3 separate regions of the Homo sapiens genome follow, and regions 1 and 3 are each linked to region 2. The links come from fine-mapping of genetic effects on gene expression. A gene starts in region 2. Each other region holds a variant in brackets. All regions are shown on one strand. Distances are between the middles of the regions.

Region 1 (9,831 bases), 77 kb before region 2:
CTGAGTGTGTGCTGTGTCTCTTACCTCCTGGAAGGTTCATGTCATTACTCCCAGTCTCAGCACTGACACCTCGCTGCCCACCCCAGAGTGTTAAGCAGAGATGGGAAGAACTGACCCACCTGCTCCTCCAATCTTCAGTTCTGCAGACTTTCCCTGTTAAGATCCTCTCTCCCCTTCTTAGTTAAGTTAATCACCCTGTTCCCAAACTTTTACTCTTGAGAATATTGAGAAAACATACTAGCAGCAAACCCCTTCTCAGGGAATTAGTTTTTGCCAGCTGCTTCCTGGGAGGAAGCACTATGCCAAAGTTTTCAGGAGAGGAATGCCTTTCCTGGTTGTCCACATGCCATGTGGCCGTGCTCACATGCACCTGGGCTAGGGAACCCAAGCACTGTCCTCTGCAGCTCTGCAGGCTCCCACTGAGGTCACGCCACATGCGCCACTGTGCTTGGATGTCAGCCCATTAGGGTTGAGTATGCCTCTAGAAGCAGGAAAGGAGGGAGGCAGGAGCGCCTCAGAAAGGGGGCCATGATGCCAGCTGTCCCATGTTGGCACATATGTGTGCATGAAGCTGTTGGTGAGCCACTGCAGATCACTCAGGCATGACAACTGGGCATGACAGGTCCTGGGTGCCAACATGCTAGTTATTTGTTCTGGAAGTTTGCAGAGGGAGCCATACAAATAAGTTCAAATATGGTTTCAGTGGTTGCACAGTTTTGAACATTTGTTTAAAAAAAATGTCTTCAAAGTGATTCCTGTCAAAGACACAAAGCCATCAGGATCCCATGGCCCATCTTTGCCCAGTCCCAGCCCTGCACTGGCCACCTGTGTGCTCTGCCCAGGCCTGGCTGCATAATGCTTTCAGAACTCAGCTGCCTCACCTCTGAGAGAAAGCAGTGTCTGCAACATGAAAATGTTTGGGGTCCTAAAATAGCTGTGATCTTAGAATGTTAAAGTGGCCCTTTCAGCAGCTATACTAGTTCCTAGGGGAAGGCCCAGGTTCCAGGGAGAAGCAGCAGATTGCTGGTGTCAGGGGATGTGCTGGTGGCCTCAAGGGGCCACACTGCCCACCTCTGTTCCTGCTTCTCCTTCCTGGGAGGAGAACATGTAGTTCCTAGTTTCCACTCAGCTTCTTGGCCTGAGACCAGCCTTGGGTCTACTGTGAGAGGAGAGGGGCGTCAGCACTGATTGCAGGCCACCACTGAGCCCTTATACTACCAGGAGGGTGATGGGTGCTTCTAGCCCTGGTACAGCTGAGGAGAAGCAGTCACGGGGAGGTCAGATGGGGAGGTCAGACAGGGAGGCAAGTGCACAGCAGGCCCTGGTCAAAGGATCTGATTTCCAGTCCCAGCTCCATTGCATATGTGCTCTGCAACCTTGGACAAAGGACTTCACTTCTCAATTTCCTCACCTGTTGAATGGGGTAATGTCTTCGTTATGGGTATTAAACAAAAGTGCTTGTACATTGCAGCCACCTCCTGGATGGAGTTCTCCAAGTCATTGGTGGAACTAGGGTAAGACCTAGGTAGCACTGCATAGAGGGAAGAGCCTGGGCTCTGGGGCCAGTCCCCCTCAGTTTGCACCCCACCTCTCTCCAGCTAGTGGCATGGCCTCACAAGAGGTGGAGGTAGTGTCCTCTGAAGCAGCAGCTCCTGAGTGGGCTTGGGCATGGGGCTTTCTGGATCCTGGTTTCCTACCCCCACAGAACAATTAACTTTCCAGCAGTGGGAGAGGGAGCCAGGCGTCAGGACTTTCCTTGGGCATGGTTAGGAGACCTTGCATTGGAGCTGCCTTCCCACATTGGTATGCCTTTGCTTCAAAACCAGAAATCAGCTAGGATCAATTCTGATTTGGTTTAAGATTTAGAAAAGATTTAGAAAAATAGCTCCAGGTACATGTGGGTTGTTTGACATTTGATAATAGCTGCTTCATAGGACCCAAATTTGTTCTCTGAACCACCCTCACCTGCAACCTTGTGTCACCTGCATTAGGGTGGGGAGCATCCTGCAGCCTGTGCATAACTCTGGTTAAAAGCCTTTGGAATCAGCCCCTCAGGTCACTCTGACTCTACCGCAGCCTGGTGTCAAAGCCAGCCCTTCACGGAACAGCCAGGAGGGCATCACAGCTGACCTCTGGCCAAGCTGAGAAAGAGAGCAAGAGAGAGAACAACAGAGAGAGAAGCTTTGTCCTCTGCTGTGCTGCTGGCAGCTCTGGCTGGTTGTGCTCCCCATCTGCCTAACTTCTGCCTTCCGTCAATCTCTTGGAATTTGCCCACAGGGCTGAAATCCCTAATGTTGAAGCTTCCTGACCAGGAAAACGAGGTGACCCGAGGAGCACATTGTGACCTTCAGGGGGTTCCCAGTGATTACTCTTTATACATATTCAAGCAACATAAGGAGATCTTTGAACAAGACCTCTACCCCTACCCTGTGTACAGTATGCGTGTATGTATGTGTGTGTGTGTGTGTGCCCGTGTGTAATTACGCCCTACCACTCAATGCTGTGTGCTTGCTCTGTGCTGGGCTCTGGGCAGGTGCCTGCAGGGTAGTAGCATGTCTCCATCTTCATAACTGCCCTGCAGGCTCGGTCATGCCCTTGTTTCCCCAAGAGGAACCTGAGCTGAGGGCAGGTAGGCACTCATCCAAAACTGCCTGCTGTAGTCAGGGTATAGCCAAGAGATACTGGGTCTGAATCTCCCTCCACCCCTAGCCAGAGGTGAGACTGACACTAGGAAGGCCCTGTGGTTGGCCAGCCTGGCAGAGACTGAATCTGTGTGTGTTTCCCTTGTCCTTCAGCAGAGGGCCCAGAGAGCTTAGCCATTACAGAATGGCTTGGTTCGTCACTTGGCCTGGCTCAGCCCTGCTTTGGGATGTGTTGATAGTGCCTTTCTTGGACTAAAATCCTTGCTCTCTGCCTGTCGTGCTCCATGTCACTTCAGAATGCCAGAGCCAGAAAAGGCCTCAGAGCTCGGAGGCCTTGTGCTGTGGTAAGTCTGGGGCTGAGCCTCTCTATGGTCTTTGGCCAACCTGTAGCCATGCCCATCCAGGTGGTTCCATCAGTGCTGTGCCAGGTGCATAGAACAGCACTGGTCCCTGCTGTAGAGGAGGTTGGTGCAAATCAGTCAGTTACATAGCTGAGGGTTGGGGGTCAACTGATGCCAGCACCAGAGAGGTGGGGTTTGTTCATCCCAGAGAAACCTGGGCCTGTTGGTGGGGTAAGAGGCCTTTCCGAGGAGGCAAAGTTTAGCCAAGATCCGAGGGGTGTGTCGGTGTTTCTCTTGAGGGGTTGGGGAGAGGGAGCAGCCAGGGTCAGAAGAGTGGGAGCCTTGGAGGCTGGTATCCACCAAGGGTGGTGATGCCTACCTAGTCCCACTGACAGCATGCACAGAGCCGCTGAGGAGTCTCAGGCTACCTTGAGCCCCAGGTTGTAGGGTGTGGGCCTCACTGGAGAGCCCAGGGTGCCCTGTGCCAAACCCCCATTGTGGCCATCCATCCTCAACCTCCATGCTGTCACCGTCTGTGTCGTGTGCCGTCTGTGCTCATCTTCGCCTGTTCGCCCCATGCTGCCTCCACCAATATTGCCCGTGCTGCCCCTAACCCTGACCACACTCTGTTCTCCAGGCTTTGTCTTTCTGCTTGCACCTGTCACGGCTCGCTTCAGGGAACAGCGCAGACCCGCATGCTCAGCTCTCAGTCCGGCTCCCTGCTACCCCTGTGACCAGGAGCACCTTCATGTCTGCTCGCCCTGTGATTTGGAGAGTGTGTTTGATGCGCTTGGCTTCTGCTGATGGCCTATCCTCCCAGTTCTGGCCAGAGGCAGATGCG[G/A]TGGGGGCCTCTTCTCCACTGCCCCCCTGCCTGCACCTCCAGCAGGTGGCCCAGTCCTATATTTCCATTGCTTTGCTCTTTCTTGCTTTAAAATAAACAACAAAGGCAACAGACTCTAACATACCAAATTATCTTTACAAGGACAAAGGTGTAAAAATGCAAATTGTGCACAGTAGCCTTGATGCTCTGAGGTGGGTCCTGTGTCTTCAGCCCACCAGGGCCAGGCTATGTAGGACGGGGAGCTGTGAATGCCAGTCAGTCCTAAAGGGCAGGCCCACCCTGGCCTCTGCTCAGTGACCTCCCCTCCTAGGGCTAAGGGGAGGTCAGTTTCTGGTTGGAGTGCCATTCCTAAACAGACCTTCTCAAAGTGGGAGAGACTGTAAGTGGAGCTCAGTTTGTTCTGCTTGTTCCTGACGGGCAGGGGACAGGGGAGGCTGTCAGCGAAGAGCCACTCACCTCTTTTGTTCTCTTCTTTCATTCTTAGCTTTTTGAAAACCTTTAGGAGTTAGCTGGTCACGGCATTTATTGAACATCTGTTGTGTGCCAGGCATGGAAAAGGGTGCCATGGGGAAAGTCAAGATGATGGTGCCTTGATTCCTGCTCCCAGGTTGGATCTGATGTCCCATGGTATCATGGGACAGTAGTTGGTGCCAAGGAGGAGTGCCATGAGCTGGCAGACGGGAGCAAGTTCTGGGGTTTGGTGGGTTGGGAAGAATTCCTGGAGAAGGTGAGTCTCTAGAGAGGCCTGCAGGCCCATTTAGACATGGAGCTTGGAGAGTCCTACAGCTTTTGGATACTGAGGTGACTGGGGTGGATGAAAAAGAGACTTTGAGGGGAGAGAGCTTGGGAAAGCAGCTGGGCTCTGAGGGTTGGGCTCTTTCCTGTGGGCAGTAGGGAGAGTGATGTGGTCACAGGATCTCTCTCTCTCTGGGCTCTAAGGAAGGCACAATTTTCCCCCCATCATCCTTTGAAGAGCCTTCCTGGGAAGCTCACTAGATGGCTGGGGGATGCCAGCCTCACACCTTACAGAACTGCTTCGCTTCTTCTGGCATTTGTATCAAGAGGGGCTGTTCACCTGCCTTTGGTCAGGAAAATGTTTAAAGCCTCCCGAGGCCTCCCTGGTCAGTGCCTTTCCTGGCTCAGAGGGCAGGATGAGAGATGCATGATGAGGCCTCCGAGCATCAGGCCCCTTCAGGGCAGCACCATGGTGTCTACACATATCAGGCTTCTGATATGTCTGCCAGGCTTCGAGGTGCCTGGCAGTGCTCAGTTGGCCCTCACCTGTGAGCACTGGCAAAGAATGGACAAGTGGTGCAGCCTGGCCCTCACACAATGCCGTCATGCCCACCTGCTGCCTGCTGTGTATCTTCCTCTCTCTCAGGGGCCCCCAGGTTTCTGGTACCACTTTTCTTTGGCATCCATCCAGTCTTCTCAGCCTGACAATGGGCACCCCGATTTCCCGGGCCAGCCTTGCTTCTGGTGGACGTGTTCTTTTCCTGTGGTTGGCCAGGATTGACTGAGGCAGCTTTTATCTAGTCAGAAAATTTCTCAAAATACTAATTCCACCCAAGTTTACGGTTCTTAGAAACCTGTTGTTTCCTGGTCGGCAGGACATTTGTGGTCTTTTCTGGGGCACTAGTCAGAGCTGTTGCAGTAGCACAAGCATACATCTTCTTCCTCAGGCTTTCACTGCCCCAGGCTGATGGAACAAATGGCCGTGAGCTGTTTCTGGTCTTACTGCTGGAGCAAATGGAGGAAACACACTTAAAGAGACACTGGAAAGTTGCATCTTGTAACTAAAGAGCTCTTTTAGGCTGGCCTGAGAATCCTGGGATTGTCCAAGGGATCTGAGCTGAGTCAGACCTGAACAAGGAGGACTCAGAACACAGAGTCTTTTCTCACACTGAGTGGGGACAGGCAGCCTTTCTGTCACTGAGCCAGGTCTCTTTCCCTCTGCGTTGCCAGCTGTCATTCCTTTACAGTTGATCCTGCAAATCCCACCCTGGAAGTAGAAGGTTCTGGAGCTTAGAGGGAGGCAGTTTAATAAGCACTTGGCTGGCAGACGCACATCCCCCTAAGGATTCAGAGGGAAGGCTGGCGTGGCCCAGATGCATAGACACGAAACATTCCAGTAATTAACAGTAACAATAAAATATTTATAATCTTGCCACAAATATTAATTAGTATGAGCAGGTTTTGTGTGGGCAGATTTTTAAAAGAACATTCTGAAAAAAAGAGCAAGGCCAACCTATAGCCTGCTTGCTAGTGCCATTCTTCTTTCCTGTTGGCCTCCAAGTAGCTCCCTAAAGAAATCAGCTCTCAGCTCCTGAGTCTCAAGGCTAGATACCTGGACTGTGGACAGTCCCTGGAGGTTCCATCCAGGGTGCCTGTTTCCCTGGAAGGCTCTCTCCACCCAGCCCCATAGGAAGTTTAGGCTAAGTCTGGCTCTCCTACATCAAAGAGGCTTTCCATCTGTCTCTTGCTCTGCCTCAGAACCAGGGGGCCCAGAACCCCCTCCTCACCCAAAAGCCCCTCCACAGAAAAACAGCTTGACTCTGACTTCTTCCATCTGGCCTTGCTCTATTAGGCGAGGCAGGAGAACAAAATGCCTCTGCCACCAGGCTTGGCAGCTTTTGTCTATAGAGCACAGGCAGACCCAGCCGGTCCTCTGAGGGCTCAGCACAGGCCATTAGCACACAAAGTTGCATGTCAGCCCATTTGAACCTAGGGCCACAGGATCCCAAAGATCCTGTGGAGGAGGTAGGACTGGAGCCAGGCCTGTAGGCTGTTCCTGAGGCCAGAATTCCCTCTCCACACATACTCAAAGACTCCCCAGTTCACTTGGGCAGCATGAGAGTGGTGCATTATGGTGCTAGGCTGCGTTCAGCTGTCTGGGAAGCGGGTGGAGTATGGCTCAGGGAGTGGTCCTTGCCCAAAGGTACATGGCTGATGGATGGGGGTCCTACCCCAGAGAAGAAGCCTTTGACCTGTGACCTCTTCTCCCAGAAGCCTTCCCTGTGCACACTGGCCCTTCCTTGGCTGCAGGTCTGGTAACCTGAGAGATGACCTTGCAGAGGGGCCTGCTGGGAGTAGAGAGATGACAGTAGTCAGCGGCATCCTTCCTTTTCCTCCTGCCCCTCTTCAGGGGCCTCCCAGAGCAGGGGCTTCCTGCTTCAGGAATGGGGGTGGCTCTGGGTTACACACCACAGTCCAAACAACCCTCCCTGCTGCCTGCCCTGCCAGCTTATCCAACTGCAGGGGTCCTGTTCTCCAAGAGCTTTTTCCCAGCACTGTGGCACATTGTCCTCCCTACCTTGACTCACCCAGCCCCTGGGCTGTCCCATCCACAGCAGCCCAGCTGGTGGCAGGATGAGGGTCCTTTTCACATGCTCTGCGATGTTCCTGGCAAACTTACCCCACTGTTCATGTCTGTCTGTCTGTCTTTCTGTCTGTCTGTGGCCTCTCTGAGGTCTTCAGTCAGCTGTACCAGAGAAAGTTTGCTTCCCCAGAAGAGGAGGAATGGAGGCTGGGGCACTGTCTGCCCAGGTAGATAGAGCCATTCTTTAAGAGCTTTTTCATTCATCCCTTTTGCCCTATTGACGTGAAAGAATTGAAACTTGGTGTTCTTTCAGTCTGACTGGCTTGAAACTTGGTATGAAACCTTGGGTTGACTTTTAGTATTTGAAATCAGGGTCATTTTAAATAGGCTGTGCCAACCCTTTCAGACACACAAGATCTGAAAGGAGCAGAAAATGGGCCTTGGGCCTTGAGTCCCTTTTGGTGGCTCTCATTTGAAGAGATAACACATCCCTGGACTCCTTCCTGTGGTGCTGCCCCCTTGGTAGTGGGCGGGAACCTTGGCAAGCACCTCCCCCACCTGCTTGCTTCACAGGCCAGTTGGGCATCTCATCTCTGTGTACATAGCCCCTGCCTCTCCAGCTCTGCCACAGCAGCCCACCCCAGCATCATGACCTGCAGGTGGCACCCAAGACTGTGGTGAGCCCCATTAGCAGAGCCTTCCTCAGGGCCACTTAGGTACCTTGATTACCCCTTAAACAAGGGTTTGTCTAGAATCACCACAATGCCCCCCAGGGCCAGTACCAATCTCTGCTCTCTGGTTTTTTAGATGGTTGGCAGTTCCAGATTCTCACATCTGTGTCTGAGAGGCTCAGGAAGGGCCTGGCAAAGTGTAGTCAGCAGCCTTTTGTCCCTGCCAGGTCCCTTGGCTTGTGCTTGCCCTGTTCCACTGCTGTGGATGTTATTTTAAGAGTCTCAGCAGAGTCCCCACTCAATTGGTGGTCGTTCTTCAGGGAGCAGAAGCCCCTGCACAGCATGCCGTCCTTTCTTGCCCACACAGTTCCTGGTGAGGTCTGGCCACCTTCACTGCCTGCTGGATGGATCCTGGTTCCTTCACATTGCAGCATCAAGAGGGTGTTAGCACTTTGAGAGTAAATATCTACTTGCCTAAACCAATCCTTAGTTTTCATAATGATCACAGCTGGGATTCCACCAAATTGGCAATTCCTTTAGGCCCAGAGCCCAAAAGAGCCTGTGAGCCGGTGAGCTCGTGGGGCAGCTTGCCAGTCGGTGAAATCATCCTAGCAAGGCTTGCTTCCTGGAGCTTGCCGCAGGATGTGCTGCTGAGCTGTGCAGTGACTTCAGCTAGTCTCAGGCTGGCTGAGGAGACCCAGCCCTAGCTTGTCTTTCAGGGAGACTTCAACTGCGGGGCATGGCCTGCTGTCTTTCAGAGACTCTGAGGCCTCACGAGCATTGTCTAAGCCATCGGTGTTCTCACTGTCAGGGCCAGAGTGAATGCTGCAGGGCTGTCACTTGTGTGCAGGGCACTAGCCACGCCTTTGTGGGATCCCATGTATGTGTCAGGGACAGAGGTAGGAAGACAATGGCAATCGTGTTAAAAAACCTGAAGTGGGGGCCTAGAGCAGCAAAATCATTTGGCCAAGATCACCCAACCCCTAAGTGGCAGATCTGGGATGGGAATGTGGGTCTGGGAGCCCAACCCTTAAGCTCCTACAATGACCCTGCGTGGCCTCTAGAGGGTCCCCATTGCTAATCCTCCCTTTACACACAGCCAGCAAATGGGCTGCCCCACCTCTTCTTGATCCCCTCATGCTGGGGACTCAAGTTTGGGACATTTTGTGAGGGCTGCAGGCCTGCTCATAACTGCCATTCAGTGCTCATGGAGCCTTGTATTCTGGCTTTGTAAGTCAGGGAAGAGCCTTTCACAAGCGTGAGAGAGAGGTTCTGGTCAGGTCTGTGCTCCTCCACTCAGGGGTCTTATACACGTCCCAAGTCCTCATTTCTCATTGTTCTGTCAGCCCAGCTGATACTGATGATCCATCAGTTCCTGGGCAGTGGACATGGCAAAGGCAGCTATGAAGGAAGGGCTATGGCAGGGATGCCTACAAGGTCACTGTCCCCAAACCCTGGTATATGATGAGACATGGGTAAAGAGGCCAGAGCAGCAGGGCACCCTTTGGAGCACAGACCTGATCCTCAGTATCCTCTGTGCAGGCCATCCCACTTTGACAGGCCTGTTGTGTCAATGTTGCCCCCCCATCTACATGGTGCTGCTTAGGTATTGGCTCCAATATGGCATCAGCAAAACCCTCTGCTCATTCAGACCTAAAGCTGTAATGGCACATTTGAGACATAAGAGATAAAACATGCTCAGGTTCTCTGAAATAATAGTATTGATAAACTGACATTTTGTGAACCTTTACTGTTTGTTAGGCACTGATTCAAACACTTTATGTGTATTAACCTAGTTAATCATAACAGTTCTGTGAAGTGGGTGCTTATGTTATCACAGTTTTACATGCATGGAAACTGAAGTATAAATAATTATGGCATTTACAGAGGCTCTCAGAGATAGTAGGTGACAGAGCAGAATTTCAGTTCTATCAGCCTGGATCTTCCAGAGTCCAGGCTTTCAACTTTTTTGAAACAACTTTATATTTTGCTTTTTTTTTTTTTTTTAGACAGGGTC
Region 2 (9,831 bases):
CTCTTGGGTGGTGAGTGGTTTCTTGGCAGCACCAACCTGGACTGCCTCAGCCAGGACCCCAGCATTGGCCACACTCCCCTGCCCAGTGTCCCAGGGCACAACCTGGGCCCATAGGACCTGACACAGATGCGTTGGAGCCTGCGGGGTGGATGAGTCTATTACCTGCAGTGAGCCCATGTCCCCACAGAGGGAGAAGAGCTGGCGAGAGTGGCAGAGGGCACCAGCTTCCCGCCTCAGGAGCCACGGCACAGTCCGCAGGTGAAGATGGCCCCCACAAGTTCCCCGGCAGAGCCACACTGCTGGCCGGCAGAGGCTGCCCTGGGCACAGGCGCTGAGCCCACCTGCAGCCAGGGTAAGGCGAGTTGGGAGCAGCCCAGCACCAGCCCCCAGGAGGCTGCCTCACAGCTGGCAGCCAGGGTGGGTTTCCCGGCCTGGCCTTGAAGGGCAGGGCCTGGGGATGCCCCATGGAATGAGATGGGGAGGAAATGGGGGTAGTGCAGGCTGGACAGGGGAGCCAAGGGAGAGGCCCAGGCTGAAGAGTTTAATGCGTGGCCCATTGTGTCAGGGGCTGGGTAGAGAGGGACCCCAGAGGCTTATTCCACCCCTGGCATCACGGAGGGGTACTAGCGAGGGCAGGCGGCCTGCTTGGGCCCACTGCAGAACCCAGGCTGAGCCCAGAGTGGGGAAAGAGGAGTAGGCATGGACAGGGCGGAGCATGGGCCTGGTGACAGACACTTGAGGGACATCAGCAGCAGGCAGAAGGGTGGACAGGTTGGGCTGGGCCAAGCAGGCGTCCCCGTCGACAGCCACGTCAGATTCTAGCCCTGGCCTCAGTCCGGCCTGTTCCCACCAGCTGCCCCAACCAGCCAGACCCCTTGGGGACTCCTCCTGGCCTGGGCCTCCCACAGACCACTTGGGATGGCAGGACCTGGCGCCAGCCCCTGGGGGCCAGGCATGGGCTCTGTGTAAACCCCATTCCTTTTAAAGCCATGGGGCTGCAGAGGAATGTGGAGACGAGCCAGGCCAGCCGGGTCCTCCCAGCTCGTGCAGCTCCCTAGAGGCTGCCAGGCCTGCAACTGGCCCAGCCTTCAGGCTCTGGGCAAACTCAGCCCCTTGCTCCCACTGGAGGATGAGGCGAAAGTGGATGCCCTGGGGCCAGCTCAGTGACCATGCCTGGCTGAGCGACCAGCTCTGGGCTTCAGTGTCCTCCCTGGGGCATAGACACCAATAGGACATGCATCCTAGGATGGTTGTGGAAATACGACAGTTCATGCAAGCATGATGCCTGGAGGTCTTACAGAACCCAGCAAGGCTCAGGGAGTCTCAGGTCCTGGGCTTTGAGTTCATGGTGTTACTGGGTAAGGTTCACAGTCCCAGCACCCCACAGCTCAGAGCCAGAGTTGGGTCCCTGCAGGCCTGAGCCAAGTATTTGCCCAGGGTAGAAGCCTTGGAGCCTGCCAGCCAGCACAAACTACACAGCATAAAGGCCCAGGACCTGGGGGGAGCGGGTGGGGGCGAGATAAAGTGCTCACTGTGTGATGCGGCAGGCAGGAAGTGCTCTTGGTACCTTTGTCTTCCAGAGGGGAAACTGAGGCCTGAGCCGAGAAGGGATGGGGAGGCTCAGGAGGCTGCGAGTGAGACTCAGCCCCTGAGCTCTCCCCCAACAGCTGCCAGCTCCAAGGCCCCCAGCAGTGGGAGTGCCCAGCCACCAGAGGGTCACCCAGGCAAGCCTGAGCCCAGCCGGGCTAAGTCCCGCCCCCTGCCCAACATGCCAAAGCTGGTCATCCCCTCCGCCGCCACCAAGTTCCCCCCTGAGATCACCGTCACGCCACCCACCCCAACCCTGCTCTCCCCCAAAGGCAGCATCTCGGAGGAGACCAAGCAGAAGCTGAAGGTGACCTCAGGGGCTGGGCTGGAGCCATGTGTGGGTGGGAGGCATAGGTTACAAAGGGGGCCTAGGATGGGGGTGGGGGTGGCAGGAGGGCCTGGGGTGTGGGTGAGGATGGCATAGGGGCCTGGGGCAGGGGTGAGGGTGGGAGGGGGGCCTGGGGCAGGGGTGAAGGTGGCAGAGGGGCTTGGGGCAGAGCCCAGCCATCCTTGACCAGTGCCCCGCCCGGCCCTCTCCGCAGTCAGCCATCCTTTCTGCCCAGTCTGCTGCCAACGTGAGGAAGGAGAGCCTATGCCAGCCAGCCCTGGAGGTCCTGGAGACATCCAGCCAGGAGTCCTCGCTGGAGAGCGAGACAGACGAGGACGACGACTACATGGACATTTGAGGGGCCACTGCAGCCCCACCGCCACGCCCCAGGGGACCAGCCAGGCCTGGAATGCCCCCTGGGCAGGACCCTGGGCAGGACCAGAGGCCCACATGGATGCCACTCCCCACACAGCCCCCAGGCCTGCCCAGCCCACCTCCTCATGGCATCCTCCCTGTACCCAGGTCAGGCTGTCCACACCACATGGGAGCCCAGAGGAGGAGGGGCCCGCCTTAGCCATGTGAAGGTGGATTGGTCGCCATCTGCACGCCAGGCGGCATCCTTTTCTATGAAGTGTTGACTTTGTAAATCTGCCCACACCCAGCTGGCCATATCCACCCCTCGACGCCGGGATGAGCCGGCTCTGCCTGTGTCACAGTGGAGGGGTCCTTTAGGGCCAGGCTCACCCCTCACCCTTTTTTTGGTTGCTTTTCTAATAAAGATGGAACAGTTGTCTTTGCCTCTTTGCTCACCTCTAGGGGGCAATCTGGCAGAGTCTCTGGCGGAGAGTTGCTGTCCCCAGGGATTCTGGGCCTTTACTGCCATAGTCCATAGGGCAGGGCCTAGCCCCCCTCCTTCTCCAGCATCTCAGGGACCAGCCAGGCAACCAAAGCAGCGGCTGGGGGTGCCCAGTGGGGTAAGGAGAGAGCCGACTCGGGGCTGGGCCAGGCAGACGCCTCTAGTGCAGCTGGAGCCAGGCTTCAAAGGGGAGTTAGGTGCATCCCCAGAACGCACCTGGGTGCCAGTGGGTGGGAGGCTGTACGGTGGGAGGGCAGGCAGGGCTGGGGCAGCTGAGAGGCTGGGAGGAGGGGGCTGTCAGGGAGGGAAAGGGGGGATGGGGCCGGCAGGGAGGGTACTTAACTCCCATCACAGTCGCCCTAATGGGGCCAGTCACAGAATAGCTGGGCTCAGTGCAAGACATAAATATGAAGCTCCTTGATCAAAAAGGATTAAGGATTTTTTTTTTTTTTTTTTTTTTTTTTTGATATGGAGTCTCACTCTGTCTCCCAGGCTGGAATGCAGTGGCACGATCTGCAGTGGCACGATCTCAGCTCACTGCAACCCCCGCCTTCTGGATTCAAGCGATTCTCTTGCCTCAGCCTCCCGAGTAGCTGAGATCACAGGCACACGCCAACACGCCCAGCTAATTTTTGTATTTTTAGTATAGACGGAGTTTCACCATGTTGGCCAGGCTGGTTTCAAACTCCTGACCTCAAGTGATCCACCCACCTTGGCCTCCCAAAGTGCTGGGATTACAGGCCTGAGCCACCACCATGTCTGACCAAAAATGATTAAGGATTTTAAGGCAGGCCCCACAGAGCATTAAGCCCCTAGAGCTGGCACCCTTCACAACTCTCTTCCCCTCCCAGCACCGCAGGGGCCCTCCTGGCCCTGGGACCTCCCATGGAGCAGGCTCTCTGTCCAGGATGGAGATGGGGACCCTCCTCACTGCCCTGTGCCCCTCATGGGCTGGACATGCCCACCACCCAGGAGGAAAGGCGTAAAGGGCTGGGCACCGCCCTTTTGGAACCAGAGGCTTGGTGGCCCCAGATGGGTCTGGCTGAACCCGCCTTTCGGGGGGCTGAGATAAGCCAGCCCCAGTTACTCAGCTGACGCCCCCTCCCTGCAGGGCCTGGGGTATGGAGCTTCCCAGACTGCACACCTAGCCCCTACCGCACTTCCATTGTCTCCAGACACGCGCAGCAACGGTGCCCAGGCCAAAAACAGGAAGCAGCAGCTCTCCCTCCTCCAGTTCCCGGGAACTGTCTCAGCCGATCCCCCAGCACCCCTCCCTGGAGCCTCACCTATAGGAGGACGGACACCTCGGACCCTCCCCTGCACCCAGTGCTGTAGGGAGCAACTTCAGCCCTGGGCCTGGGATGAATGCCCTCGCCAGCCTGGGGCCAGGAGACAGGCTCTCCCTGGCTCAGCACCTGAGCGTCCACTTACAGGACACTCACCTGCAGAGGTGCCCTGAGCGCCATTGTGGGTTAAGGGACTTTCTCCCCTCTGGAGACAGTCCCTGAGAAGCTGAAGGTCTTGGGGGCCTCTCACCAAATGTCTTTGGGAGGTGGGAAAACATCAAATGCGGGTGTGGCTTCCCTGGAACAGCTCTGTGTGGGGACTCAGGAGCCAAGTCCCCCAGCACACGCCTCTAACACTTTCAGTAGGGGCCACCTCTCTGGAGCCACGGGTGGCTGCCAACACCCTGTGGTTCCCAGCAGGCACCACCCAGGCAAGAGAGAGAACAGGCCGGGGAACAATGGGCTGGCCTGGCCGCAAGCGCTGGGGCAGATCACAGACCGGATGGCCTAAGCTCATGCCCTGGGGCCACCTCTGACTCCCTGCAAGTGTGGCAAGGGTCCCTTTTGGACACCTTGAGAAGCTGCAGCTGGGAGAGGACCACCCGCCTGTCTGGATGTCCAGCCCAGGTGTCAGGGTCCAAATGACCAGTCCCAGGCCGCAGCCCTTACCACCCGCCCTGGCTGCAGGGGCTCCCAGAAGCCACCAAGGGCCTGGCTCGGCCTTGCCTATCCGCATCTGAGCTTCAGTTTCCTCATCTGCTCAAGAAGGGAGGTGAATACTGATTAAATTATGCAAACTCTTAGCGGCAGGATTAGGTGTGGCTGGGACAGCCAAGGCTCCCCAGGGTGGTGGCATCTCTGGAGCCCGGGGATGGGCCCTGTCTCCCTTCCGGGCCCCCCGCTGGGCTTGGGTACCTTCTCTCCCCTTCCTCCTTCCTCCCTCCAGAGGGGACCCCTGCAGAGCTGCCTCCGCCCCAGGGCTCAGCCTGTGTCTGACCCAAACAGCTCCTGCCTCCCCCTGAGGATGAGTTGGGTGCACCTCCTTCCTGCAGGAAGATGAGGGCTAGAGATGGAGGTCTATGTCAGGGCCACAGAGTCTGGAATCCTCCCTGGAGCTAAAACAGCCCTGCCTTATTCACCCTGCGCATCCCATCCTCTGCTTCAGCCCCGCCGGGCTCGCCCTGCATGCAAGGCGGGGCTGGGACCCAGGGTCTGAGCTTCGCCCTCTGGACATCCGGCTCATCGCCTGCCAAAGGTCCTGTGGCTGGAGGCTCCGGCCTCCTCACCCTCCCACAGGGTCCCAGGGCCGATCCAGGCCTGCGGGCCAGGAATGTGCTAACGGGGCAACTTGGGCCTTGCTGGTCCACGCAGGCACCTGTGGACTTTGAGAGGGGACTGGGTGGGGAGGGGCGGGGAGGGGCGGGGCGGGGCGGTGCCGCAGAGTGCAGGGCGGGCGGGGCCAGGCCAGCAGGGAGTGAGCTTGTCTGGCCGCCTCGCCTCGGAGCCACTGCACTGCTGGCTGCAGACACAGGCTGCACCATGAAGCCAGCCCTCCTGCCCTGGGCCCTGCTGCTGCTGGCGACAGCCCTCGGCCCGGGCCCCGGACCCACAGCAGGTATGCCTCCCTGCCCTTCTGTGTCCCCGTCTGTCTGTCCATCTGTCTGCAGCCAGGCCTGGGCTGACATCCCTCTGGGCTCAGCCTCTGTCCATCTGTCAGGCCATCTGTGGCTGTGCTAGGGGTGATGGGAAGAAATTCTGAGGGTCCATGTGGAGGGGCAGCCCATGGGGATGGGAGGTCTGAGCCGGGCCCACCCTAAACCTGCTGGTAGCTAGGAGGGAGGCGGGGGAGACCAGCAGAGGCCTCCGCCTGTGTCCCCAGCCCTGACAGGGCGGGATCACGGAGGGGGAGCCAGGATTGTGGGTCCTCATCAGGGTGGGGCTGAATCCAGGAAAGTCTAGGGAAAGCCCCGAACTCCAGAACCAGGACACTGGTCCCAGGCTGCCCCCCGTCCCCCACCCCATTTCCCATCGACCCTCTTGCCACTTATCTCACTTGCAAGCATCTCTCGGCCTCCTCCCCCGACCCCTGTGCGCCACCAAATCCTTGGCCAGTACATATTTATTGTTGCTTTTAAGTGCCAGGCACTGCACTTGGTGAAGTGGGGCCAGCGGGGTGGCTCAGGCCCAGGCCTGGCCCTCGACTGGCCTCTTTTGATGGGGGATGGGGAAGGGCCAGGGAAGTGCAATTCCAGCCTGGGTGCATGCACCTGCCCCAGTCCCTCCCTGCAACCCTTCCTTCATGCCAGCCCCTGGAAATATGGCCTTGCCCACCGGTCTTATGGCCCATAGGAGAAGTTTTGGGCCCGGCGCCCACAGCCCCTTGTGGTGTGCACCCCCACTTCCCTTTCCCCACTGCTGGGACCCCTGCTTGAAATGTCCCTCCTCTCCCCAGAAAGGAGGGGAGCGGCCCTGGCCTTCTGCCCTGAGCACGGAGCTCTCTTTGGGGTCTCAATTGCAGCCCCTGGGAGAGCGAGAAGTGTCACGTTCAGACCCTGCACCATTCCCTACCAGGCCTCAAATGAGACTCTTGGCAGCCATATCCCCCACCCCAGTCCAGGCAAGCAAGAGGGGTTCTTCTGCAGGCTTCAGGGCCCCCAGAAGGCGTGCTGACCACAGACACCCTGGGGAGCCAAGAGAGGTCGAGGGCTCCAGCTACCGTGGCCCACTGAGGACCCCTGCCTGTGGGATAGAGGACTTGGTGGCTGAAGGGCAGTCATGCCCAGGGGCTTCTCCTGACCCTGCAGGGCTGAGCGGATGCAGCTTTTTGCCTCTTCTCGCTGCATTCTAGCCCGTCAGTCAGGGCAACAGCCAGATGGTCTGTGCTAAGATTCATCCCATCCCCACGGGCCCTGTGGCTTTCTACTGTGTCCACCTGGTGGCCTGTGCAGTTCCTGGCCAGCGTTCTCCTGGGGATGCTGCTGTCTAATGGGCTGTGGGAGAAACAGAGACAGGCCCTGCACATGGGGCAGCCAGTCCAGTACCCGCCGGGCCAGGCCCTCAGCATCCTCTCCTCCAGATGCCCAAGAGAGCTGCTCCATGCGCTGTGGCGCCCTGGACGGGCCATGTTCCTGCCACCCGACGTGCTCTGGCCTTGGCACCTGCTGCTTGGATTTCCGGGACTTCTGCCTGGAGATATTGCCCTACTCAGGATCCATGATGGGCGGCAAGGACTTTGTGGTGCGGCACTTCAAGATGTCCAGCCCCACAGACGCCAGTGTGATCTGCAGGTTGGGAGGCCCAGGAGGCCGGGCACTGGGGCCCCACGCCCCCATCCCTGTGCATGCTGAGGGCTCAGACCCACTGACTGGCTGAGTGGAGCCCCTCGGACCCAGGACAGGCAGGAGGGCACAGGGACAGCTGGCTGGTTGGGTTCCCCAGGGAGGTTGGGGGCCCAGACCATCGAGAGGCTCAGCCTGCAATGACCCAGCCCCTCCCACCACCACCACGCCCACAGGTTTAAGGACAGCATCCAGACCCTCGGCCATGTGGACTCCTCCGGGCAAGTGCACTGTGTGTCACCTCTGCTCTATGAGAGCGGCCGCATCCCCTTCACTGTGTCACTGGACAACGGCCACTCCTTCCCTCGTGCGGGCACCTGGCTGGCTGGTGAGCCCTCCTCCCTGCCCACAGCCTGCCCCCACGGGGACTTTCCCCAGCGCTAATCTATGCACACCGAGACTTGGCCTGTCCGTGCCCTGCCTCTCTGGCTGAACCAGTCCCTTGGGAGGCCTGCCCGCCTGCGAGAGTTCCTTCAGCTCCTTTCCACTCCCTGGCATCCAGACCGCGGTCCCAGCCCAGAGTGAGTGGGAGCTGCAGGGGTCCCTAGAGAGGTGGGCCAGTGCCTATCCACTGAGCTCCGCCATGCCAGGGCAGGGGAGAAGCCAGGTCGAGGCTAGAGGCGTGGGCAGTGGAGGGAGGGCAGGCCCCTGCCTCTGCGGCCTCAGCGTCCTTTTCTGCTGTGCGGGCCAGAGAGACCATCACCCAGCTGCTGCCATGCATTGGCCCTGGAGGCTCCCACAGCCCTTGAAGCCTCAGGGCCTCCTCCCTGCTTCCCTGGGCCCAGGCCCTCACTCACCCCTCACCTCCCCTGCCCAGTGCACCCCAACAAAGTGTCAATGATGGAGAAGAGCGAGTTGGTGAACGAGACGCGTTGGCAATACTACGGCACCGCCAACACCTCAGGCAACCTCAGCCTGACCTGGCATGTCAAGTCGCTGCCCACGCAGACCATCACCATCGAACTGTGGGGCTACGAGGAGACAGGTGAGGCCAGCTGAGGGCTGGGGTGGCATCAGAGCTTTGGGCCCCCAGAGGGGGAGAAAGGGGGTCCCAGCTGTGTGGGAGGAGGAAGGGAGTTTCCAGGTGGGGTTGAGGAGGGAAGGGAATTCCAGGCAGAGATTGAGGATTCGGATGGAGGGAAGTGCAGGTCAGGGGGGTCAGGCAGGTGGGAGGGGGCAGCTCATGGGGCCTGGCTCCAGGGGAGGAGGCTCATGAGGAACCCCTGCACGGCTGGCATGGCCCTGGGCCCAGCTTCCAGCAGGGACAGGGATCCTGGAGTGTGGCAGGAGGTGATGGTCACCCAAGCCGGGGTCCCTGCTAGAACAGCCCCTCCTAAGGGGACCGCCTGGCGGTCCATCCACCCATCTGTCAGGCTGCTGTAGGTGGCAAGGCCTGGGGCCAGGCCTCGAAGGAACCCCAGGGCTAACCAGGCATCCTCTCCCTCAGGAATGCCCTACTCACAGGAGTGGACTGCAAAGTGGTCGTACCTGTACCCCCTGGCCACACACATCCCCAACTCCGGCTCTTTCACTTTCACCCCAAAACCTGCTCCTCCCAGCTACCAGAGATGGCGAGTGGGTGCACTTCGGATCATCGACAGCAAAAATTACGCAGGGCAGAAGTAAGAAGGCATGGATGTGCAGGTGATGGCTGGAGGGCCTCGCCGCCCGAGGCCCATCATGCTTGCCTGGGCAGCCCAGGCTGGGGGTGGGGAGAGTGGGGCGACCATGGGGTGGTGTGGGCTGGCCCAGCTCCAGCATCATCACCTCCACAGGGACGTGCAGGCGCTCTGGACCAACGACCACGCACTGGCCTGGCACCTGAGCGATGACTTCCGAGAGGACCCTGTGGCCTGGGCACGAACTCAGTGCCAGGCCTGGGAGGAGCTGGAGGATCAGCTGCCCAACTTCCTGGAGGAGCTGCCGGACTGCCCCTGCACCCTGACCCAGGCCCGGGCTGACTCCGGCCGCTTCTTCGTGAGCCTCCCATCAGGGCCCAGGAGAGGGGATGAGGGGTTAGCCTCCCCACTGAGGACAGCACCAGGGGAGGCAGACAGAGGTGTCCTGGAGGGTGGGGCTGGGGTCTCAGGACCCCTGCAGGGTTGGCCTCAGGGAGGGGATGACAGAACCCGAGGCCACTGGGTGACAGCCACCTGCTGCTCTGCAGACGGACTACGGCTGTGACATGGAGCAGGGCAGCGTGTGCACCTACCACCCCGGGGCCGTGCACTGTGTGCGTTCTGTGCAGGCCAGGTGAGCCCCCAGGCTGGGGCCGGTATGGGGATTGGGGTCAGGGGTGGGCTCCCAACAGTGGCCTGGCCCTGACTCACTGGCTCCTGCAGCCTCCGGTACGGCTCAGGTCAGCAGTGCTGCTACACAGCGGACGGGACGCAGCTCCTGACAGCTGACTCCAGCGGCGGCAGCACTCCCGACCGC
Region 3 (9,831 bases), 41 kb after region 2:
CTGTAATCCCAGCACTTTGGGAGGCCGAAGCAGGAAGATTGCTTGAAGCCAGGAGTTTGAGACCAGCCTGGGCAACATGGTGAAACCCCATCTTTACAAAAAAAGCAAAAAATCAGCCGGATGTGGTGACACACACCTGTACTCCCAGCTACTTGGGGGCCTGAGGTGGGAGGATTGCTTGAGCCCAGGAGGTCGAGGCTGCAGTGGGCTGAGACTGCACCACTCCACACCAGCCTGGGTGATAAAGTGAGACCCTGTCTCAAAAAAAAAAAAATTAGCTGAGCACGGCAGCGTGCATGGTGGTTTGTGCCTGTAGTCCCAGCTACCTGAGAGGCTGAGTTGAGAAGATGGCTTAAGCCAGGGAGGTGAAGGCTGCAGTGAGCCAAGATCATGCCACTGCATTCCAGCCTGGGTGACAGAGCCAGACCCTGTCTCAAAAAAAATGACAGAACAGACTCTGTGGCAACAAGATACCAAATTATAAAGAGGACCCAAGGCCAAGCCAGGCAGGGGTTAATTCATGGACCCTGCACTTAAAGAATAAACTATGTTCTAACAGCAATGAGGCTTTCCTTTTCCTCCAGCAGCAACAAGCACCGGCCTGAAGCAACATTAATACACTTTGCAGCTCATCCAGCTCACGGATGCCAACTTATTGACCCCCTGTTTTTCCAGGCATAACTACAGCTCCGACTGGACAAGAGACTGATTTCAGTAACTTTCTCCTGATAAGAGACCATTGACCATGAACTGGCTCTGGCTGGTTTTCAGAAGTTGCTCACTTGCAGGCCTTCAGGCCCTGAAAAGATGTTTTGACAGATGGGGCCTAATTGTAATACATTTTATTTTATTTTATTTATTTTATTGAGATGGAGTCTCACTCTGTTGCCCAGGCTGGAGTCCAGTGGCACCATCTTGGCTCACTGCAACCTCCGCCTCCTGAGTTCAAGCAATTCTTCTGCCTTGGCCTCCTGAGTAGCTGGGATTACAGGCGCCCGCCACTGTGCCCGGCTAATTTTTATATTTTTAGTAGAGTTGGGGTTTCACCATGTTGGCCAGGCTGCTCTTGAACTCCTGACCTCATGTGATCCACCCGCCTCGGCTCCACAAAGTGCTAGGATTATAGGCGTGAGCTACCGTGCCTGACCTTGTAATACATTTTAATGTTAAGTCTCCACCGTCTTCATCCTACAGCAAACATGAGTCCTATGTTACATGCATGTTCGTTCAATACACATGTGTCAAGACTGCCTTCATGAATATTCATAGCTCTCCCTGTAACATGTTGAATATGTATGTTTAGCCAACCCCTTCAGCATACAGCTCCTGCCCCAACCTCTCCTCCTTAGAAGTGCCTATCTCCGGATCACGAGATCAGGAGATCGAGACCATCCTGCCTAACACAGTGAAACCCCGTCTCTACTAAAAATACAAAAAAAATTAGCCGGGCGTGGTGGCGGGCGCCTGCAGTCCCAGCTACTCGGGAGGCTGAGGCAGGAGAATGGCGTGAACCTGGGAGGTGGAGCTTGCAGTGAGCCGAGATCGTGCCACTGCACTCCAGCCTGGGCAAGAGAGCGAGACTCCATCTCGAAAAAAAAAAGAAGTGCCTGTCTCTGGTCTCTGCCAGAGGCTATGCTTTTGAAAGTGGCGGATGGCCACCCTGCAGTCTGTAACCCTTTATGAAAAATAAAGTTGCCGCTGTGGCTCACACCTGTAATCCCAGCACTTTGGGAGGACAAGGCAGGCGGATCACTTGAAGTCAGGATTTCAAGATGAACCTGGCTACATGGTGAAACCCCATCTCCACAAAAAATACAAAATGAGCCGAGTGTGGTGGCACGCACCTGTAATCCCAGCTACTCAGGAGGCTGAGGCAGGAGAATCGCTTGAAGCTGGGAGGCAGAAGTTGCAGTGAGCTGAGATTTTGCCACTGCACTCCAGCTTGGGCAACAGAGTGAGACTTTGTTTCACAGAAAAAAAAAAAAAAAGAAAGTAAGTTGGGGGATGGGGGAGAGCTTCAGGAAGAATAGCTAATGGATGCTGAGCTTAATACCTAGGTGATGGGTTGATCTCTGCAACAAACCACCAAGGCACATGTTTATCTATGTAACAAACTTGCACATCCTACGTATGGGCCCCTGAACTCAAAACACAAGTTGAAGGAAAAAAAAAAAAGAAAGTCTTGTCGGGCATAGTGGCTCACACCTTAATCCCAGCACTTTGGAAGGCCGAGGAGGGAGGATGGCTTGAGACCAGGAGTTCAAGACCAGCCTGGGCAACATAGCGAGACCCTGTCTCTACAAAAAAAATTTTAAAAATTGGCCAGGTGTGGTGTTGCACACCCGTAGTCCCAGCTACTTGGGAGGCTGAGGCAGGAGGATGGCTTGAGCCCAGGAGGTTGAGGGTGCAGTGAGCCGTGATTGCACCACTGCACTCCAGCCTGAATGACAGAGCAAGACCCCATCTCAAAGAAAAAAGAAAGAAAGAAAAAATGAAAGGAAAGAAGAAAGAAAAAAGTCTCTTTTCCAAATTTGTGAATTGTGTGATTTTTCAGTTAACCAGCTCTCAGGTCTGGGGCCAGTCACGCTGCTGAGTCCTGGCCACCAGAGTGGTGAGGTGTTGGGAGGCAGAGGTGGTGCTTGTCTCTGTCCAGGGGTGGCCTGGCTGAGGTTCGGCTGGTCCACGAGCATCAGTTTCCCCACCTCCATGGTGGTGGAATGTGGAGAGCCATAGGAGCCTGGTGCATGCACCCCTCTGTGCACTGTCCGAGGGTCCCCTCCCCACTTAGAACCATGGAATCAGGCCACAGTCCGCCTCTTTAATCTTGGACTGGAGGATATACAGATCGAGAGGGTGGGAGAGTGGCCCCAGGCAAGAGGCCTGCGGAGGGATAGAGGGGCCGGTTCAGGACCACCAGGGGCTCTGGGAAAGGGGGTTAGGGATGAGGCTCAGCCTCTCATCTGCCCAGCTGGTCCCCGCCACCTCTTCCACTCTCAGCTGGACTCCCCTGCCAGGGGTCCAGATCCTGCCAGAGTAGTTGGTCCCCCAGCCATGTCCGGCCTGGACACAGGACTCATGGTGGGGCCAGACTTCAGCTCTGGGCAGAGCAGTGTCTTAGTAGCCTGCGGCCTCCCCACTCTTCCTCAGGTCCGAGACGGCGTACACACAGGCCCCCTCCTGGGACACAGCCTGGACCACGTTCAGGAAGAAGGGCCTCTGGGTCTGGTTCTGGCCACGGTCTTGGAGTCCCCTCTGCACCTCCTGGAGAGGAGAGAAAGCAGGTTCACAGGGGAGGGCAGCTCAGCCCATCTCCAGGAGGGAGAGGCCTCTGCAAGAAATGAGAAAAATGATCAAAAGGCAAGACGGAGAGGAAGAGGGCCTGAAGACACAGGAAGAGGGGAGGACCAGATGGGAGCATGGAAGAGATCCAAAGGCCCATAGAGGACAAGCTCAGCCTCCAGGGACTATGTACGAAGGACACCACCCAGGCCCGAAGACCTCCAAATGCAAGTTCATGTCTGTTCTGGATCCAAGGACACCAGGGCCTTGAGGTGCAAATCTGAGTTCAGGGGGCCTTCGATGGAGGATGTGGCTTCTCAAGATTTAGACACTGAGGCCAGACACAGTGGTTCACACCTGTAATGCCAGCAATTTGGGAGGCTGAGGAAGGAGGATCACTTGAGGCCAGGAGTTTGAGACCAGCCTGGGCAATGCAGCAAGATCCTGTTTCTAAAAAATAAAAAATAAGAAATAAAAAAAAGCCAGGCGTGGTGGCACATACCTACAGTCTTAGCCACTTGGGAGCCAAGGTGGCAGGATCACTTGAGGCCAGGAGTTTGAGAACAGCCAGGGCAACAAAGCAAGACACCGTCTCTAAAAGAAAATCAAAAATTGGGCTGGGCGTGGTGGCTCACACCTGTAATCCCAGCACTTTGGGAGGCCGGCGCAGGAGGATCTTTTGAGCTCAGGAGTTCAAGACCAGCCTGGGCAATGTAGCAAGATCACGTCTTTATTAAAAAATAAAAGAAAAGAAAAAAGAAAAAATTAGTCGGATGTGGTGGCCCTGTGCTTATAGTCCCAGCTACTCAGGAGGCTGAAGCAGGAGGATCCCTTGAGGCTAGGAGTTTGAGGCTGCAGTGAGCTTTGATCATGACACTGCACTCCAGCCTGGGCAAAACAGCAAGACTGAAACCGCCTTTGCAAAATTATGACTGAGACAGGGAAAGAGATCTAACTTAATCGACTCCATCTTGCTTCTAACCTCCCAGTTGTCCTTGCTCATTCCTGGGTGTAGGCTGAACTAACTTTGAGAGAAACTTAGTTTATAGTTTAAAACAAAGACGGTAACAGCCCTTTCCCAAAGCAGACTTCCTTCTTGCCTGGGCACCAGACTGCCTTCGTAGGACTCACATTAGCCACAAGATTAGAAATTATGGTTTAGGAGTCACGCAGCTGAAGGCTAAAGATTCTGACCCTCCCTAAACTGCTCTTAAGATCAGTGCTTGAGAAATTTTGCAGACCCTGCACTTGATGGATCAGCTGGCACCATCCAGATCGATTAACTGGCTCATCTGACCTTGTGGCCCCCACCCAGGAACGGACTCAGCTCAAGAAGAAAGCTTCAACTCCCTATGATTCTATGATTTCCAGGGGTTTTTTGTGTGTGTCTGTTTCTGAGATGGAGTCCCGCTCTGTCACCCATGCTGGCGTGCAATGGCACGACCTTGGCTCACTGCAACTTCCCCTCCCAGGTTCAAGTGATTCTCTTGCCTCAGCCTCCCCAGTAGCTGGGATTACAGATGCCTGCCACTTTGCCCAGCTAATTTTTGTAATTTTAGTAGAGACAGGTTTTCGCCATGTTGGCCAGGCTGGTCTCCTGACCTCAGGTGAACCACCCACCTCAGCCTCCCAAAGTGCTGGGATTGTAGGCGGGAGCCACCGCGCGCAGCCAACTCCCTATGATTTCATCCCTGACCTATCAGCACTCCTGGCTCATTGGCTTCCCCCAACCCGCCAAGTTGTCCTTAAAAACACTGCTCCCTAGCCAGGCGCGGTGGTCATGCCTGTAATCCCAGCACTTTGGGAGGCCAAGGTGGGCAGATCACCTGAGGTCAGGAGTTTGAGACCAGCCTGGCCAACATGGAGAAACGCTGTTTCTGCTAAAAATACAAAAATTAGCCAGGCTTGGTGGCACACACTTGTAATCCCAGCTACTTGGGAGGCTGAGACATGAGAATTGCTTGAACCCAGGAGGTGGAGGTTGCAATAAGCTGAGATCG[C/T]GCCACTGCACTCCAGCCTGGGTGACAGAGTGAAACTTTGTCTCAACAACAACAAGCCAAAAAAACAAAACAAAACAAAACAAAAAAAACTAATGGCCCGAGAACCTCACCCTGCAGGGCCTGAGATTCCGGAGACATCTAGATGCATCGGGTGATGCCACATGGCCTGAGCTGCTGACAGGGCAAATGAGGTCTTTGGAGCCCTGCACGTTTGGCTATGAGTTCCCCATGCCTGACCTACTAATTGCCCACTGTCCTTAGACTTGAAGGCCAAGATCCTTTACTGCTGAAGCCAAAGTTGGACCTTCAGTGCTCAGAGACTCCATTCCTCAGAGTCCACTGGCCAAACTCCAAGACTCTGAGGATCAAAGACTCTCCTCGCCCTAGTCCCTGGGCCTTAGCTGTGAAGGTCCTTGGAGGCTTAAAGTCTCCAACCCAGAGTTTAGGATTTACTCCATGGAAAGCCCTAGACCTGAATAGCTGACATTCCAACTCCCCAAGGGAGCTGAGAACCTTAGGTTTGTGGGTCACTGGATTCCATTAATCCCAGTCCCCAGACTGTCATCTCCCAAATTCTCAGCATTTCACGTCCCCAGGGTGAAAGGTCCTGAGAATTGATGTTCACAAAGACAAAGGTCCTTCAGTCAAGAGTCAAGGGAGGGGCCGGGCGCGGTGGCTCACGCCTATAATCCCAGCACTTTGGGAGGCCAAGGCGGGCGGATCACAAGGTCAGGAGATCGAGACCATCCTGGCTAACACGGTGAAACCCTGTCTCTACTAAAAATACAAAAAATTAGCCGAGCGTGGTGGTGGGTGCCTGTAGTCCCAGCTACTTGGGAGGATGAGGCGGGAGGATGAGGCAGGGGAATGGCGTGAACTCGGGAGGCAGAGCTTGCAGTGAGCCAAGATCGTGCCACTGCACGCCAGCCTGGGCAACAGAGCGAGACTCCGTCTCAAAAAAAAGAAAAAAAAAGAGTCAAGGGAGGGCCAGGCACAGTGGCTCATGCCTATAAGCCCAGCACTTTGGGAGGCCAAGGTGGACAGATCACTTGAGATTGGGAGCTCAAGACCAGCCTGGCCAACATGGGGAAACCCCATCTTTACTAAAAATACAAAAATTAGCCAGGTGTGGTGGCGCACATGTGTAGTCCCAGCTACTCAGAGGCTGAGGCAGGAGAATTGCTTGAACCTGGGAAGCGGAGGTTGTGGTGAGGCAAGATCATGCCACTGCACTCCAGCCTGAGTGACAGAGTGAGACTGTCTAAAAAAATAAAAATAAAAAAAGAGTCAAGGGAGGAGGGCTCCAAAGGATGTGCCCTGGATCTTGAAATCCTCCATATCTAAGATCCCTGGAACCCGAGAGCCCTGAGAGGGTCTTCCTGTCATGCGAAGGACCCTACATGCGGAGGGAGGCCTGCAAACTCCAAGAGTTTGAGCCTAACAGGCTGAGGTCCTTAGTCTCAAGGTCTGAAAACTAAGGCTCTTGGGACTACACTCTGTTCCTGGACTAAGGCCATGGTTCTCAGGTTCTAAGGGCTTTGGAAGGTGGACTTGAGACCGAAGAAGTCTCATAACAGGAGAGGCAGCTTTGACGATCTGGAACCTCAGCTGCTATCAATCTTTTTTTTTTTTTTTTTTTTTTTTTGAGATGGAGTTTTGTTCTTGTCACCCAGGCTGGAGTGCAATGTCACGATCTTGGCTCACTGCAACCTCTACCTCCTGGGTTCAAGTGTTTCTCCTGCTTCAGCCTCCCGAGTAGCTGGGATTACAGGTGTGTGCCACCACGCCTGGCTAATTTTTGTATTTTTAGTTGAGGCAGGGTTTTACCATGTTGGCCAGGCTGGCCTGGAAGTCCTGACCTCAGGTGATCCACCCGCCTCGGCCTCCCAAAGTGCTGGGATTACAGGCATGAGCCACCATGCCCGGCCACTATCAATCTTTTAAATAGGTCCTAACAAAGGGCATCCATCAACCCAAAGATGCTCCAAGGAAGCTGAGTCTCTGTCTAAGGATAGAGGGGGAGTCAGCCAGAAGAATTCAGCCCCTGGAGCTGCACCATGGGCTTCTGTGGGGAATCAAAAAAAATGTTTGTAGGCTGGGCATGGTGGCTCACGCCTATAATCCCAGCATTTTGGGAGGCCAAGGCGGGAAGATTGCTTGAGCTCAGGAGTTCAAGACCAGCCTAGGCAACATGGTGAGAGACCCTGTTTCTACGAAAAACAAAAAAATAAAAACTATCCAGGTGTGGTGGCACACACCTGTAGTCCTAGTTCCTTGGGAGCCTGAGGAGGAAGGATCACTTGAGCCCAGGATGTCAAGGCTGTAGTGAGCTGTGATCGCAACACTGCACTCCAGCCTGGGCAACAGAGTGAGATGCTGTCTCAAAAAAAAAAAAAATTATATATATAGTAAAAATTACCACCAATGCCCTAGTGCCCCAGAAGAAAATCACTTTACAGACTGTCACAGGAAAAACAACCTCTTTCACAAATAAAGTTGCAAATATTAGTTACAAATCACACAAGGAAAAAGTCACCATGAGGGAGAGTCTGAGAGGCCCCAGCCAGGAAAACTCACTTCTGAAAAATGGCATCAACCACAGACCAGAGACCAAGGTGCTGAGATCCTCAGCCTGGGAGCAGCATAGACAATACCCTGCTCTCTGTCTTGGAGGCCACAGAACTGGCCTGGAGGCCACTGACAGCCTCACCCATCAAGGTCCCCAACTCCTATGGCCCCCAAAGTTGAAGTGTACCTGGCCTAAGAATCTCAGTGACTGAGTTCCTCCCAGGTGGCTTTGAGCAGCACGGATTTGGGGAGTGGGCTCTGCCCTAGGCATCCAGCTCGGACCTCAGCCTCACCTGGCTGAAGTTGGGCTCGTACTCCACACAGCCCTTGCTGTTGACATGCAGGATGGGGGCTGCAATGGCCGCTCTCAGGTCAAAGCCAAGCCACAGCTTGCTCATGATGGCCTGGGGGAGAGATGAGGGTTTCAGGGAGAAAGGGGGCACCCTGCTACCCTACATCAGCCCTCACATCCCCACTCCAGAGACAGTCAGACAGTATGCTGCCCAGAGAGGAGACACTCGAGCCAGGAGCCCCAGACTCACCTGGGCCACAGCAGAGATGATGAGCTCCCCGCCAGCCCCGCCAATCACTAGCTTCGACCCCTGGGCTTTGTTGATCAAGATGGAGGGCACCATGGAGGATGGGGAACGCTCGCCTGGAACTGGGGGCCAGCACCTTCCGGGAGCTCCACCCACCCTGTCTCCACTCACTGCTGAGCAAACAGCGTCTTGGCAAGTGCAGTGACCCATCCAGGGGTTAGCATGCAACCCCAGCCCAGCCCCCTCCCTCCTCTCCCCTGGTGGGGGGCCCTTGTGGACCCCGGGTGGGAAGCTTTGTTCTCACCAGGTGAGGGGGTGGTGCCGGAACCCCGGGGGCATCGCTCGCATAAGTCCAGGAGCTCGTTGTTGAGGATGATGCCTGTCCGTGGTGAATACACCATCGCTCCAAAGCTGCAGCCGTGGAGGCAGAAGAGCCTGGGCTAGGACCCGGGGCTCCCACCAGACACCACTTACCCTGCACGCTTTGCAGGACCCCCTCGTTTTACAGCTGCCCCGAAGCATGCTGAAGCCGCTATTCTCTCCCTGGCACCACCCAGGAGGGGTCCCCAAAGACCCACCTGTGCCCCCACATCAGGGCACCCTTCTGAGTGAGGCTACCCATTCCCAGGTAAATCTTGGGTCGGGGCCACCCCAGCAGCAGCCTTTCCAGCCAGAGATGTCAGGGGTGGGGGCCTCTTTTGAAATAGAGGAGGAGAAAAAGGGCAAAAGCAAGGTGCTGCCCCGTGGGGACAAGTGAGGGGACATGGGGCTGGGGGTGTGCAGGTCTAGGAGAGGAGGAGTGAAGCCATCCGCCTTCCCCCAGGCCCTACGCACGGTGTGTTGATGGTGCTGGTGGCAGCCACGGCGCTGCCATCCTCCCCCAGCACAGACACATGGGACGTGCCTGTCCCGTGGCCCCAGGCCTCGGCCAAGCTGTAGTGGCTGAGCTGGTGGTCCCCCCGGCCATCGATCTGTTGGCGGATGAGCTGGGCCAGGGTCTCCCCCAGCAGGTCCCGGGAGGCATTCTGGGGTGGGTGGGCAGGTGGCAGGGTCAGTGAGGGGCCAGGCAGAATCCGCAGAACCAAGGGCAGGATGAGATCAGCCCCCATGGGGGCCACCTCCAGTCTGTCCTCTACCTTGTGGCCAGGTCTCCCTCAAGCCCAGCTAGGTCTAGACTCTGCTCACCCTCCAGGTCCTTTGAGATATGGTGCCACTCCTGCACCTGACCCCTGTACCTGCCACCCCGGGATCCCTTTCAGTCCTGCCCTGGCCTAGAACCACATACATATCCCTCCAACTTCCCCCTACCAGGCCTGACCCTCATTTCATGCCAAGTCCTGAGCCAGGGAGGAGGACGGCCCACCAGCCCAGCAACCTCAGCAACCTCACCTGGAGCTTCGGGTGGCTTCGAGGGTCCCCCAGCCTCCACCTCTGCCCCTTGGCAA

The links. PIP is the estimated chance that this variant, and not a neighbour inherited with it, causes the effect.
Region 1: its variant is the best candidate, but not a certain one, in a credible set for the expression of SUSD2 in whole blood (INTERVAL, PIP 0.76).
Region 3: its variant is the best candidate, but not a certain one, in a credible set for the expression of SUSD2 in thyroid (GTEx, PIP 0.69).

Annotation. Positions count from the first base shown.
Region 1 is chr22:24,099,417-24,109,247 of GRCh38, forward strand. All of the region lies in intron 26 of CABIN1 (calcineurin binding protein 1), which reads left to right. Among named protein-coding and RNA genes, the nearest start is that of SUSD2, 77 kb to the right of the region's middle. The variant G/A (reference allele first, on the strand shown) is at 3,825.
Region 2 is chr22:24,175,924-24,185,754 of GRCh38, forward strand. It overlaps SUSD2 (sushi domain containing 2), which reads left to right and starts at 5,564. Exons shown (of 15, transcript NM_019601.4): 1 at 5,564-5,672; 2 at 7,134-7,344; 3 at 7,572-7,723; 4 at 8,213-8,380; 5 at 8,843-9,017; 6 at 9,171-9,372; 7 at 9,563-9,648; 8 at 9,738-9,831. The coding sequence starts at 5,597. It overlaps CABIN1 (calcineurin binding protein 1), which reads left to right. Exons shown (of 37, transcript NM_012295.4): 35 at 188-352; 36 at 1,581-1,894; 37 at 2,130-2,705. The coding sequence ends at 2,273. RefSeq lists enhancers at 1-43, 7,534-7,613, 7,684-7,793.
Region 3 is chr22:24,216,856-24,226,686 of GRCh38, forward strand. GGT5 (gamma-glutamyltransferase 5) reads right to left here. Exons shown (of 12, transcript NM_004121.5): 7 at 9,776-9,831; 8 at 9,221-9,411; 9 at 8,691-8,797; 10 at 8,390-8,556; 11 at 8,141-8,251; 12 at 2,805-3,261. The coding sequence ends at 3,115. Among named protein-coding and RNA genes, the nearest start is that of GGT5, 23 kb to the right of the region's middle. The variant C/T (reference allele first, on the strand shown) is at 5,280.